Linked DNA regions of Homo sapiens. The protein of the gene in region 1 interacts with the protein of each later gene in a pairwise test. Each region holds a gene or a part of one and is shown in the gene's direction. Other genes may lie near its edges.

What was found.
Region 2: the proteins of NSMF (region 1) and LMO2 interact in binary tests that used the Homo sapiens proteins (3 or more experiments, as listed by UniProt).
Region 3: the proteins of NSMF (region 1) and TTC23 interact in binary tests that used the Homo sapiens proteins (3 or more experiments, as listed by UniProt).

The regions. Positions count from the first base shown.
Region 1 is NC_000009.12:137,457,895-137,461,641, reverse strand, and holds the start of NSMF (NMDA receptor synaptonuclear signaling and neuronal migration factor), read left to right. Parts: upstream 1-2,307; 5' UTR 2,308-2,539; coding exon 2,540-2,610; intron 2,611-3,092; coding exon 3,093-3,154; intron 3,155-3,740; coding exon 3,741-3,747. Other genes in the region: PNPLA7 (patatin-like phospholipase domain-containing protein 7), read left to right, coding at 22-106, 905-1,008, 1,166-1,249. UniProt on the Homo sapiens protein: Couples NMDA-sensitive glutamate receptor signaling to the nucleus and triggers long-lasting changes in the cytoarchitecture of dendrites and spine synapse processes. Part of the cAMP response element-binding protein (CREB) shut-off signaling pathway.
Region 2 is NC_000011.10:33,889,934-33,893,680, reverse strand, and holds the start of LMO2 (rhombotin-2), read left to right. Parts: upstream 1-1,604; 5' UTR 1,605-1,886; intron 1,887-3,747. UniProt on the Homo sapiens protein: Acts with TAL1/SCL to regulate red blood cell development. Also acts with LDB1 to maintain erythroid precursors in an immature state.
Region 3 is NC_000015.10:99,221,982-99,225,728, reverse strand, and holds part of TTC23 (tetratricopeptide repeat protein 23), read left to right. Parts: intron 1-182; exon of another isoform or gene 183-345; intron 346-3,747. UniProt on the Homo sapiens protein: Participates positively in the ciliary Hedgehog (Hh) signaling.

The DNA.
Region 1 (3,747 bases):
CTGTCCTCACCCCACCCCTAGGTCCTCACCTGTCCCAACGCCTCCTTCACGGACCTTGCCGAAATTGTGTCTCGCATTGAGCCCGCCAAGCCCGCCATGGTGGATGGTGAGTGGAGGCGCAAGACGAAGCCGTGGAGACGTGCGTGACCTCCTGATGCTGTGTTGGGCTTGAACCCCCCCACCCCAGAGGCCCACGGCCTCCCCTCCCGCCCACGTCCACGCCCAGGCTCCAGCAGCTGGGGTGCTTGGTGGCACTCCTCCGTCCCGGGCACCACGTGTTCCCACAGCAGTGGGACTGTGACCACCCCGGGTCACCCAGCCCCTGCCCTTCATTCACCTCAACTCCCAGCCACACCTCAGGCCTGAAGTAGAACCACGTTTTGCCTCCCACCCCACCCAGTGGGAAATGGGAATGAAGGCTGCTTGTTGGAGGGGCCGCAGGACAAGAAGGGCGGGTCCACTACCCTCCATGCTCCATCCAGGGCCCTGCGCTTGGGCCTTCAGCCAGTGGCCTCCTCACAGCAGAACTGGACATTCTCCTGGGAGACGTCTTCATGGCTGCCGCAGGCCGAGAGGGCCCTGGGCAAGGCAGCCCCTATCCACAGTTGCCAGGTCTGGGGTGCTGGAGCCCTCAGGGTGCTTGGCTGACAAGGGGAGGAGTGTCTGCCCGCTCCTTGTCCTTGTGGAAGACCCACGAAGTGATGTGCTGGGGCAAAGCTGGAGCCAGACAGAACCAGGGGTGGTGTGCAGGGCTGCCCTGGGACCAGGTGGCTGCGTGTAGGGCCCCGGGCCACCTTGGAGGCGGGGGTGGGCATCTGTGGCCGGTTCTGCCTCTGAGTGTGGCTATGCTGGGTACGGTCCCTTCCTTGGGAGGGGACTGACGCAGCCCTACCCTCGGTGCCAGACGAATCTGACTACCAGACGGAGTACGAGGAGGAGCTGCTGGACGTCCCCAGGGATGCATACGCAGACTTCCAGAGCACCTCAGCCCAGCAGGGCTCAGACTTGGTGAGGAGCTGGGCATGGTCCCACCTGGTGCCCACAGCTGAGCCTTGGTGCCTGGCCCTGTGCCGGCCACTCCCTCCCTGTGGTCCCACCGGGTTACCAGCGCTGCAGAGCCCCTGCCCTGCCTGGTCCTCACCTGGAACATGCGGTCTGCTTGCAGGAGGACGAGTCCTCACTGCGGCATCGACACCCCAGTCTGGCTTTCCCAAAACTGTCTGAGGGCTCCTCTGACCAGGACGGGTAGAGGCCTCTGCTAAAGAGCCCGGATGCAGCGTCTTCCGTGGGACTGTCCCCAAGGCTGAGGCTCCTGCCAAGTCCTAGGGGCCTCTGTACCTGCCCTGCTGGAAGCCCTGACTTCCCCGGGGCCCCAGGCTGTGTTAGGGTTCTCTGGGCCTCTTCTTTGTACCAGCAGCCCTGCATACAGGGCCCTGTGAGCCCCCCTGCAGTCCTGTGAGGCCCCTGAAGCTCTGTGAGGCCCCTGAAGCTCTGTGAACCCCCTGCAGCCCTGTGAGGCCCCCCGAAGCCCTGTGAGGCCCCCCGAAGCCCTGTGAACCACCTGCTGCCCTGTGAGGCCCCCAAAGCCCTGTGAACTGCCTGCTGTCCTGTGAACTGCCTGCTGCCCTGTGAGGTGTGGGAGCCCTGATGCTGCCGTGTGATGTTTCAATAAAGGTGGATCTCACTGTTGGACGTGTCTCCCGGGCCGAGGTCCCTGTGGCAAAGAAACACTACTGGTTCTCCCTGATGCGGGTGGTCCCTGAGGCTGGGCAGTCCCCAGTCCTCCTCAAAGGACCCCACTGCTGGGGCCTGAGAGCCCTAGGGCGGCAAATGCAGGCCAGGCAGGTAGGGCGTCCAGAGTCTGCATAGAGCTGTGGCCCCCCAGGACCAGGACGGGCCCCTCTGTCTCTCTCTGGCCTCGTGCAAACTGGGTGCCCCCTAAACTGGCTTCCCCTTCGGTTTCCAGTTCCCAAACTGCACAGGGAGCCCTTTTGTGTAAGGGGAGGGAGAACCGGCCTCCCTGTGATCCTGCAGGTCTGAGCAGCAGATCGTGAGGGCCGAGGGCCCAGGACTTTGCGACCAGGGGGCCGCTGGCCTCAGTTTCCCCGCTCTGGAGGCCTGGACGAGAGGGCGCGGAGCCAGGCCGCCCGGCCCCGCCCCCAACTCAACCCGGGCCCGGACGTCACGGTGGGCGGGGCCACATGTCCTCTCCGAGCTCTCCGGGGCCCTGACGTCACGGTAGGTGGGGCCGACCGCCCCTCTGGGCCCGCCCGGGCCCTGACGTCACGATGGGCGGGGCCGGCCCTCGGTTCGGGCAGCGCTCTCCCGGGAGCGGCGGCACGCGCGGAGCGCCGGGTGCGGCCATGCGGGGACCGGGCCCGACCCCGAGCCCGACCCCGAGCCCAAGCCCGAGCCGGAGCCCGAGCGAGACCCCGAGCCCGAGCCCGAGCGCGACCCCCGGTGCGGCGCGGCTACCCCGGCGGAGGCGGCGGGCGCGGGGCGCGCTCTGAGGCCCGGGGGATGCGCCGCCGCCTCGACCATGGGCGCCGCCGCCTCCAGGAGGAGGGCGCTGAGGAGCGAGGCCATGTCCTCGGTGGCGGCCAAAGTGCGGTGAGTGCGGCGGGGCCGCCTTCCCGCACCCCGCCCTGGACCTCCGACCCCGCCCGAGTCCGCCCCTGCCCCGCGGTGCTCCCCGGGCTCCCGGGCCCCGGCCTCTGCCACTGAGGCGCCCTCCCCGCGCCCCGCGCCTCCCTCTTCCTGGTCCCCTGCCCTGCTCTTCCCTCCCCTCCCCTCGCGAGCGCGTGGTGGGCGAGCGCACCCCCCAGGTCGGGAGTGGCCTCGGTTCCCCCGGGGAACAGCAGCCGACCGGCCTCGCGACCCCTCTCCACGGTCCGACGGGCAGGGGCCGGGCCTGCAGGCCTGGCCAGGGCGCACCAGGACCAAGGGTGTGTGGGCTCCCGGAGGGGGACGACCCCGACCCTCCTTCCAGACGCCGAGGGCCTGGCTGGGGACCGGACCCCCGGCTCTTGCGCGGCCCGGTGTTTGGGAGGGTCGTGCCGTGGCCTCTGACCGTGCCCTCTGTCCACCCTCAGAGCAGCCCGAGCGTTTGGAGAGTACCTGTCCCAGAGTCACCCTGAGAACCGCAACGGCGCAGGTAGGGGCACGCGAGGCCGTGCCAGGGCCGCCCAGACCCCCCAGCCCAAGGGATGCTGATCCCTGCCTCCGGGGGTGGAGCGTGAGGGGCATTGGTTGCGCGTGGGCCCGGCGCCCTGCCGGCCTGGCTTCCTTACATCCCCTGCCCTCCCTGCCCGAGCCCCAGGAGCAGTTCCCAGCCGCTCGTCACCATGGCACCCACCCCGCCTGGGCCGTTGGCATGGCAACAGGCCTCCTGGCTCCCCCAGGGCTGGCACCACTGCCTCTGGGGGCCAGCTGGTGGGGGGAGGGGGAAGTTGGCACCAGGCAAACGGTGCGATCGCAGGCTGGGGGATGGCCTGCGTGTTCCTACCCGGCAGGACCGCACACAGGTAGCACAGCGTCACCCAGCCCCCACGCACATGCTAGAGCTTCAGGCCCAGATAGGAGTGAGGGGCTCAGAAACACGCCAGTGACTAGGGTTTGGGCAGCCCTAGTCCCCCACAGAGGCCAGGTGCCCACTGGGTGTTCTCTGCCTTCGGCCTGCTATGAAACCGGCAGCGGGGGGCCCACACGCGGCAGGCAGGCTCACTCAGTGTCTCTCCTAGATCACCT
Region 2 (3,747 bases), on another chromosome or scaffold:
GGATCGAAGAGGGAGGACAAAGGAATCAGGCACCTTCTCTCTCTCTTTTCTGGGGTAAATTTATTTTCAACCACAAAAGTAAAGGAAAGAAAAAGTCACAACAGATGAGTTATGAGCTAACTTTCTGATTTGCACATGTAAGAGAAAGAAATGAACTGGATATCATTAGACATTGAGAAAGGGAGTCTGCAAGCTAGCAATGTATCTTCGGCCTTTTTGATTTACACGTGTTTATTTATGAGTACCTACTGTGTGCCAGGCATGATGCTTGGTGCTGCCAATTCAAAGAGAAATAAGACACCTCCTTGCAAAGTGAGAAGGCAGAACTAGATTCAGATTCACCTAGATTTCAACTCTTGTGCTCAGGCCACCACCACCACCATGGAAACAATTTTGCTTGACTCTCCCGGCGCAGCCGCGGCAGGCGTGTGTGTTGTCAGACACTGCAGGAAGAGTGATGGCCTGGGTGTTGACAGGCTCCTAATTGGAAGGTAGGAGGTGCCACCAGAGATCAGCTATAAAAGATATCTTTGGACTGGGGTGGGCTGCTAATGCTTGGAAGAGACTTGTGGGTGAGGCCCGGTGAGCTGTCACCTCGGAATTGGGCCTTGCCCAGCAGACAGACATGCATGCGGGGGAGGTAGCTGACAGACAGGGGCGCATGGGGAAGCAGCCATTCCAGAGAACTGCAACAGCAGATTGCAAACCAGGACTTCAGGACTCAGAGGGGGACAAGGAAAGGAGAGCCTATAGTGGCCCCAAAGCCCAGGGTCAGAGGCAGGGCCAGGAGAGCAGCTGACAAGAGCTTTATGGTAAGGACAAAAGAGAAGACAGCCGGAGTCTCCTTTTATTCAGCTCATAAAGACCCAACTTCTGTGCACTTATAACTGTTCAGACCCTGAGGGGTTCAAAAAAAGAACCGTGTTAGGAGAATTCAATATTTAATTAAGAGATGATCAGATCCGTGCACCGAAATTATTGCTGGGTAAGACAATACTGTGTGTGTTACATAGCATTGGAACTTAGGAAAGCTCTTTCCTTGTGTTGTTTAATTTAATCCACTCAACAACCCTGCAAAGTGGGTACCATTGTCCCTGTTTTTTATGAATGAGGGGGTGAGGTGCTGAGAAGCTGTGTACGTTATTTGAGTTTGTCTGGCTAGTCAGTGGCTGAGCCAAGTTCCAATCCAGGTCATGTGAGCCTCTGAACTTTCTGATAAAACCTGCAGACCCCCTTAACTGGGATAATATAGTCATGCATTAAGCAAGAAGGAGAAGTAAATACAGGCTGATGGTGTAGGGGAGAAATTCAAAGGGAGAAGGCCTAGGAGGGAGAGGGAGCTATGTGTGAACAGAACCAAAGATGGCCTCTGGGAATTGGAAGGTCTCTTGGAATTCGTCCAAACTGAGGATCACAAGTCTCCACATTCTGAGTAGGAGGATGAGGGTCTGAGTTAGGATTTGGGTCCTGCAGGGCTTGCTAAGGAATCCCCTGATGGCCTAGGATTCCACGCAGAGCACATCTGGTGTGAGAGAGCTCGCTGCAAGGGTGAAGGCTCCGCCCTATCAGATAGACAACCAGGCCACCAAGAGGCCCAGCCCTCCAAACCCTGGATTTGCAACATCCTCAAAGAACAGCAACGGGCCTTGAGCAGAATTGAGAAGGAAATACCCCCACCTGCCCTCAGCCGTTAAGTGGGCTTTGCTATTCACAAGGGCCTCTGGGTGTCCTGGCAGAGAGGGGAGATGGCACAGGCACCAGGTGCTAGGGTGCCAGGGCCTCCCGAGAAGGAACAGGTGCAAAGCAGGCAATTAGCCCAGAAGGTATCCGTGGGGCAGGCAGCCTAGATCTGATGGGGGAAGCCACCAGGATTACATCATCTGCTGGTGAGTAGGCTTCATTAATTCTCTGATGAATGGACGATTGCAAGGGAACTTTTTTCATCTTCAAGGAGCCAGAAGAAGTGGTGATTAAATTGGTCTTTTAAAATAAAAAGACTCCAAAGGGGTACAAGTCTTCAAGCTTCCCCTGTGGTGTTCCGGGCACTCTGGCTTCTCTTTCGGAGGGAGGAAGAGCATCTATTCATAGGCTGTGACTTGGAGAGGCCCCACGGTGAGTCAGGCGCTTGCTGTGTGAGCCGCTGGTTGCTAATGTCTTCGGGAACTGCTAATTTACCCATCTAATTTGTTCCTGTACACTGGCCACAAAGGGAGACCACTCAATTATTCTGATCCAAAAGAGAGGCTTGTGTTTACCATGATCTCCCCAGCAACTGTGTGAGTGTGTGTGCATGTGTGTGTGTGTGTGTGTGTGTGTGTGTGTGTGTGTGTGTGTTTGCCTAACAACCTTAGGCAATGACGAAGAGGTGGGGCTGCTGCCCTTGTTAGCATTTTCAAACACATTCCAGTTCTGAGTTGAGGGCAAAGATTGTAATGGGGTGCTTCAGAGAAGCCTTGGCTCCCAAGGAGGTTATAACTTCAAAGGGTGTTTTTGAAAAACCAAGGCGGATGAGGAAAGTGGCTACAAGTTCCTTCCATCACAGAGGATCAATGAAGGGGAACAAAGATTTGGGAGCATCTACTTTGTGCCAGGTACTGTGCTTGGGTTTTACACGTCTTCTCTTGTTGACTTTGCATAACTCCCCTTTGAAGCAGATATTACTCCAGGTTCTTGCCGTAATGTTTCAGCTTAAAGAAAACCAACCCATACTTCTTTAGGTTGCCCTGAAAAGGTGAATCTTCTGTGAAGCCTTTTCTGTCTTTATCTGTTAAAATTAATTAAGCTCTTGTTTGTGCTCCCAGAAAATCACTTTAGACCTTAGAAAGATGGCAGCCTCAGTTTTCTCATTTGTAATATAGGGGTACCCATAGGGTCATTGTGAGAAATAATAGAAATAAATCATGGAAGTGCTTGGATAGTAGCTGGTACTTAGCCCTCATCAGTCATCATTGTCATTGTTGTTAAGAGTAATAATAATAATAATATCACTTATTATAATTACTCACCTCTAGGTTTTTAAAAAACTTACAGGCCGGGCACATTGGCTAACGCCTGTAATCTTAGCACTTTGGGAGGCCAAGGCAGGCAGATCGCCTGAGGTCAGCAGTTCAAGACCAGCTTGGGCAACATGGTGAAACCCTGTCTCTACTAAAAATATGAAAATTAGCCACGCGTGGTGGCTCATCCCTGTAATCCCAGCTACTCGGGAGGCTGAGAGAGGAGAATTGCTTGAACCCGGGAGGCGGAGGTTGCAGTGAGCCAAGATGGCACTATTGCACTCCAGCCTGGGTGACGAGAAACTCCATCTCATAAAAACAAAAACAAAAACAAAAAAACTTACATAAATTTATGGGGAACAAGTACAATTTTGTGACAAGCGTAAATTGCATAGTCTTGAAGTCAGGGCTTCTAAGGTATCTATCACCAGATTGATATCTATTGGTATCTATCACCAGATTGATATCTATTGATATCTATCACCAGATTGATATCACCACATTGTACCTATTAATTAATTTCTCATCATCCTCCCCCCACCCTTCTGAGTCTCCAGTGTATATTATTCCATACCCTAATGCCATGTGTTCACATTATTTAGCTCCCACTTATGAGTGAACAGTGTGATATTTGTCTTTCAGTGTCTGACTTTTTTAACTTAAGATAACAGCTTCCAGTTCTACCCATGTGGCTGCGAGAGACATGATTTCATTCTTTTTTATGGCTGAATAATATTCCATTGCATATATA
Region 3 (3,747 bases), on another chromosome or scaffold:
GATGTTTGTCACATAGCCAGTCTCTGACTTCCACATTATTTCAACATTTGTTTGTTGGCATTCTATTATAAGGAAGAGCTTTTCTTTCTTCACAGCTTATTTATCATTCATTTATTCCTATCAGTATGGGTTCAGGAAATTGTATTTTTCAAATACACTACAACCTGTTATTTTCATGGAAGCTCGGATTGTTCCGTATCTGCCAGTGAGAGACCCTTCCAGCTGGCTCCTGAGTCCTCAATGCATCCCCTTACGGTTTAACCACTTCCTGGCGCTACCACTTGCTGGTAAATCATCTCGACTTTCCAGCCTTAGACTCCTTCATCTTTAAACTGAGGGGACCAGGTGAGATGATTTCCAAGGTTCCTCCCAGTTTTGAAATTGCCTTCCTACTTCGTGCTTGTCTTCTGTCTGCCCCTTACTGATGCCTATTGCTAAAGTCACTGGAACTGGTAGAATAAAGGTTGGAAAACCAATAGGGATATTTGGACCATGCCTTGTAACAAATAAGGACGTGAAGGAAGGACAAGCTGTTTCTTGTATACCTCTATCCCTACTCAGGTCCTGAGAACCAAGGCTATTATCAGGGAAGCCCAACTCAGCCTGCACCGTCCTCTTCGCTGGAAATCTGTAGTTGGGACAGATTCACTATCAAAACAGATCTACCTCTCTTTTTGTCTGTCTGGATTCCATGATGTTGTCATCATTTCCGTGTCTTTCATACACTGTAGTTGTTGTTCTCTTTCTCTCTCTCCAAAGTAGTCATTCCCTAAACTTCCTGTGTCTAGAGGCAATAAAAAGGTGATTCCCAAAAGAAGTACAAACAGCCAGTTAACACATGAAGATGCTCAGCCTCATCAATTTGGGAGAAAAATGTGGACTAAATCAAGGAGAAATGGGCTAACTGACAAACTGACAAACTAAAAACCAAACAAAAACTCCACAATTTGTACTCAGTTCAACGTAAGGGGCATTTCTGCTCACATGTGCTGCGCTGAAAGTATGAACTGGTACAACCTCTGGGAGAGGCACTTCAATAGCTACTCACAGCCTCAGAATTTTGCATATCCTTTATACAGCAATCCCATTTGTGGGAATTTGTTTTGTGGAAATGTTTATGGGTATGTGCAAAGCTATCCATACAGGATATTCAGTGAGTAAGAAATTTACAAACAGCTAAATGCCCAATAAAGAGTGGATTGAGTAATGCAGTTATGATATAGTCATATAATAAAATACTGTGCAGCCATTCAAACTTATATCATAGAAGATGACATGAGAAGTTATTCGTAAATTGTTAAAACAGCAGCTGTAAACCTGCATGTAGTTTATGAACCTATTTTTGAAAAAGAAAAAATATATAAAGATAGATTCACAAAAATAAAGAATAAAGGGATATTTATCTACCTAGATATCTCTAGGCGGTAAACTTACAGGTGATTTTTAGTTTTTATCTTTTTGCTTATCTGTATTTTGACAATGAGCATACATTATTTTTGTAGTAAGAAACGTTACTGTAGAAAAGAATATGACAGTCCACCTTCTTTCAGCACTTTATGGTGAGCATGTATTCCTTAGCTTCCTCCTGCTAGGTCACAAAAGTGACTCTCCTTTGGCCAACTGTCTGGCTGTGTATTTTTGTCAAGAAAAATGTTGTTTTAGGGTGAAGGTATTTCCAATGCATGTAGGAATTGTGTGGAAATGCAAGCCCTTTGAGCTTTGACATTGATGGGCGTGCATCCTAGGTGTATCCTGGATCTTCTTCACAACTCTGTCCTTGTTCTTACCTTTCTTCCTCTGCTTTGACCCCTTCAGCTTTCTTTCTTCAGCCATCTCTCTTGCTGTTCTGACTATCTGTTGCTGCATGACACCCCAATAACTTAGTGGCTTAAAACCAAAACAGCCATTCATTTTTCTCATGAGCCTGCGGTTTTTGCAGAGCTCAGTGGGGTTTGCTCAGCTTTGCTCCGCACAGCATCAGCTGGTCTTGAAGGGTCTGGAGAATCTGCTGCCAAAATGGTTCACTCAAACTATCAGGCCTTTCTATGTGGGTCTTCTCTCCATGGGGCCATGTTGGCTTCCTCACAGCACTGTGGTTGGATTCTGTATTAGTCTGTGGTGCTGTCCTAACAAAATTCCACAGATGCTGTGGCTTAAAGAACAGAGTTTATTTCCTCACAGTTCTGGAGGCTGGAAGTCCAAGACCAAGGTGTGAGCAGGGCTTGATTTCATTCTAAAGCCCTCTCTCCTTAGTTTGTAGATGACTGCCCTCTTGCTGTGTTCTCACATGGTCATTTCTCCATATGCATGCCCATCCCTGGTGTCTTTTCCTCTTCATATATAAGGATACCAGCTGTATTGGACTAGGGTCCACCCTAACACCTCCTTCGAACTTAAATCACCTCTTTAAAGACCTCATCTTCAAAAACAGTTACATTATAAGGTGCTGGGGATTGGGACTTAAATATATGAATTCAGGGAGGTTGGGGAGGAGACACAGTTCAGCCCATAACAGGTTTCAAGAGTGAGTACCCAAGAAGAGACAGAAAGCAAAGCCACCAGTTCCTTTAGACTGTGGCCTGAAAACTGGCACTGTATCATTTCCTCCACGTTCTATTGGCCAAACAGTCATAAAGCCCAGATTCAAAGGGAATGGGACATAGACCCCCATCTCTGAATGGAAGGAGTATCAAATAATTTTGGAGCTGAGGTTTTGTTTGTTTGTTTGTTTTGAGACGGAGTCTCGCTGTGTCGCCCAGGCTGGAATGCAGTGGCACGATATCGGCTCACTGCAAGCTCCGCCTCCCGGGTTCACACCATTCTCCTGCCCCAGCCTCCCGAGTAGCTGGGACTACGGGCGGCCGCCACCATGCCTGGCTAATTTTTTGTATTTTTAGTAGAGATGGGGTTTCACCATGTTAGCCAGGATGGTCTCGATCTCTTGACCTTGTGATTCACCCATCTCCGCCTCCCAAAGTGCTGGGATTACAGGTTTGAGCCACCACGCCCAGCCTGGAACCGTGTTTTAAAACTGCCAGCTCTGCTTTGAGGATATGGCTGCTCTGAGATCACCTGGAGCTGGGAATCCAGTTTTCTGTTCTTTTTGTCCTATCCCTGAATGAAACTGTGCTTCTTGCTGCTTTAATCAAGTCTGTAAGTCCTGCTGATCTCATTTGCTATGCTAGTGCAGATGGCTAAGGAAAGTTTTGAATTGAGAGCTAAACTATAGTATTTGACAGCCTGGGCAACATGGCAAAATCCCATCTCTACCAAAAATACAAAAAACTAGCCAGGTGTGGTGGTGCACACCTGTGGTCCCAGCTGCTCAGGAGGCTGAGGTGGGAGGATTGCTCGAGCCCCCTGGAGGTCGAGGCTACAGTGAGCTGATATCGTGCCATTGTACTCCAGCCTGGGTGACTCCAGGTGAGTGAGACCCTGTCTCATACACACACACACATACACACACACACAAAGTGTACTATTTGAAAACACTACCATTTGCCCCTGTTGTGCCTGCATATGTAGTAGCTGTTCATTGGTGGGCAGCTGGGAAACCTAGAGAATGACTAGATGTCTGCTCTACTTTTTCTATTTTTTAAATTCTATTTCTTTTTTTCACCCTTAAATGTACTATAAATTGTACTTCTTATGTTTATTGTCTGTTTCATCTTACCAGATGTACATGCTACCACCCCAAATAGATCTTTGTCTGTTTTGTTCTCTGATACATCTCAAGTGCTTAGAACA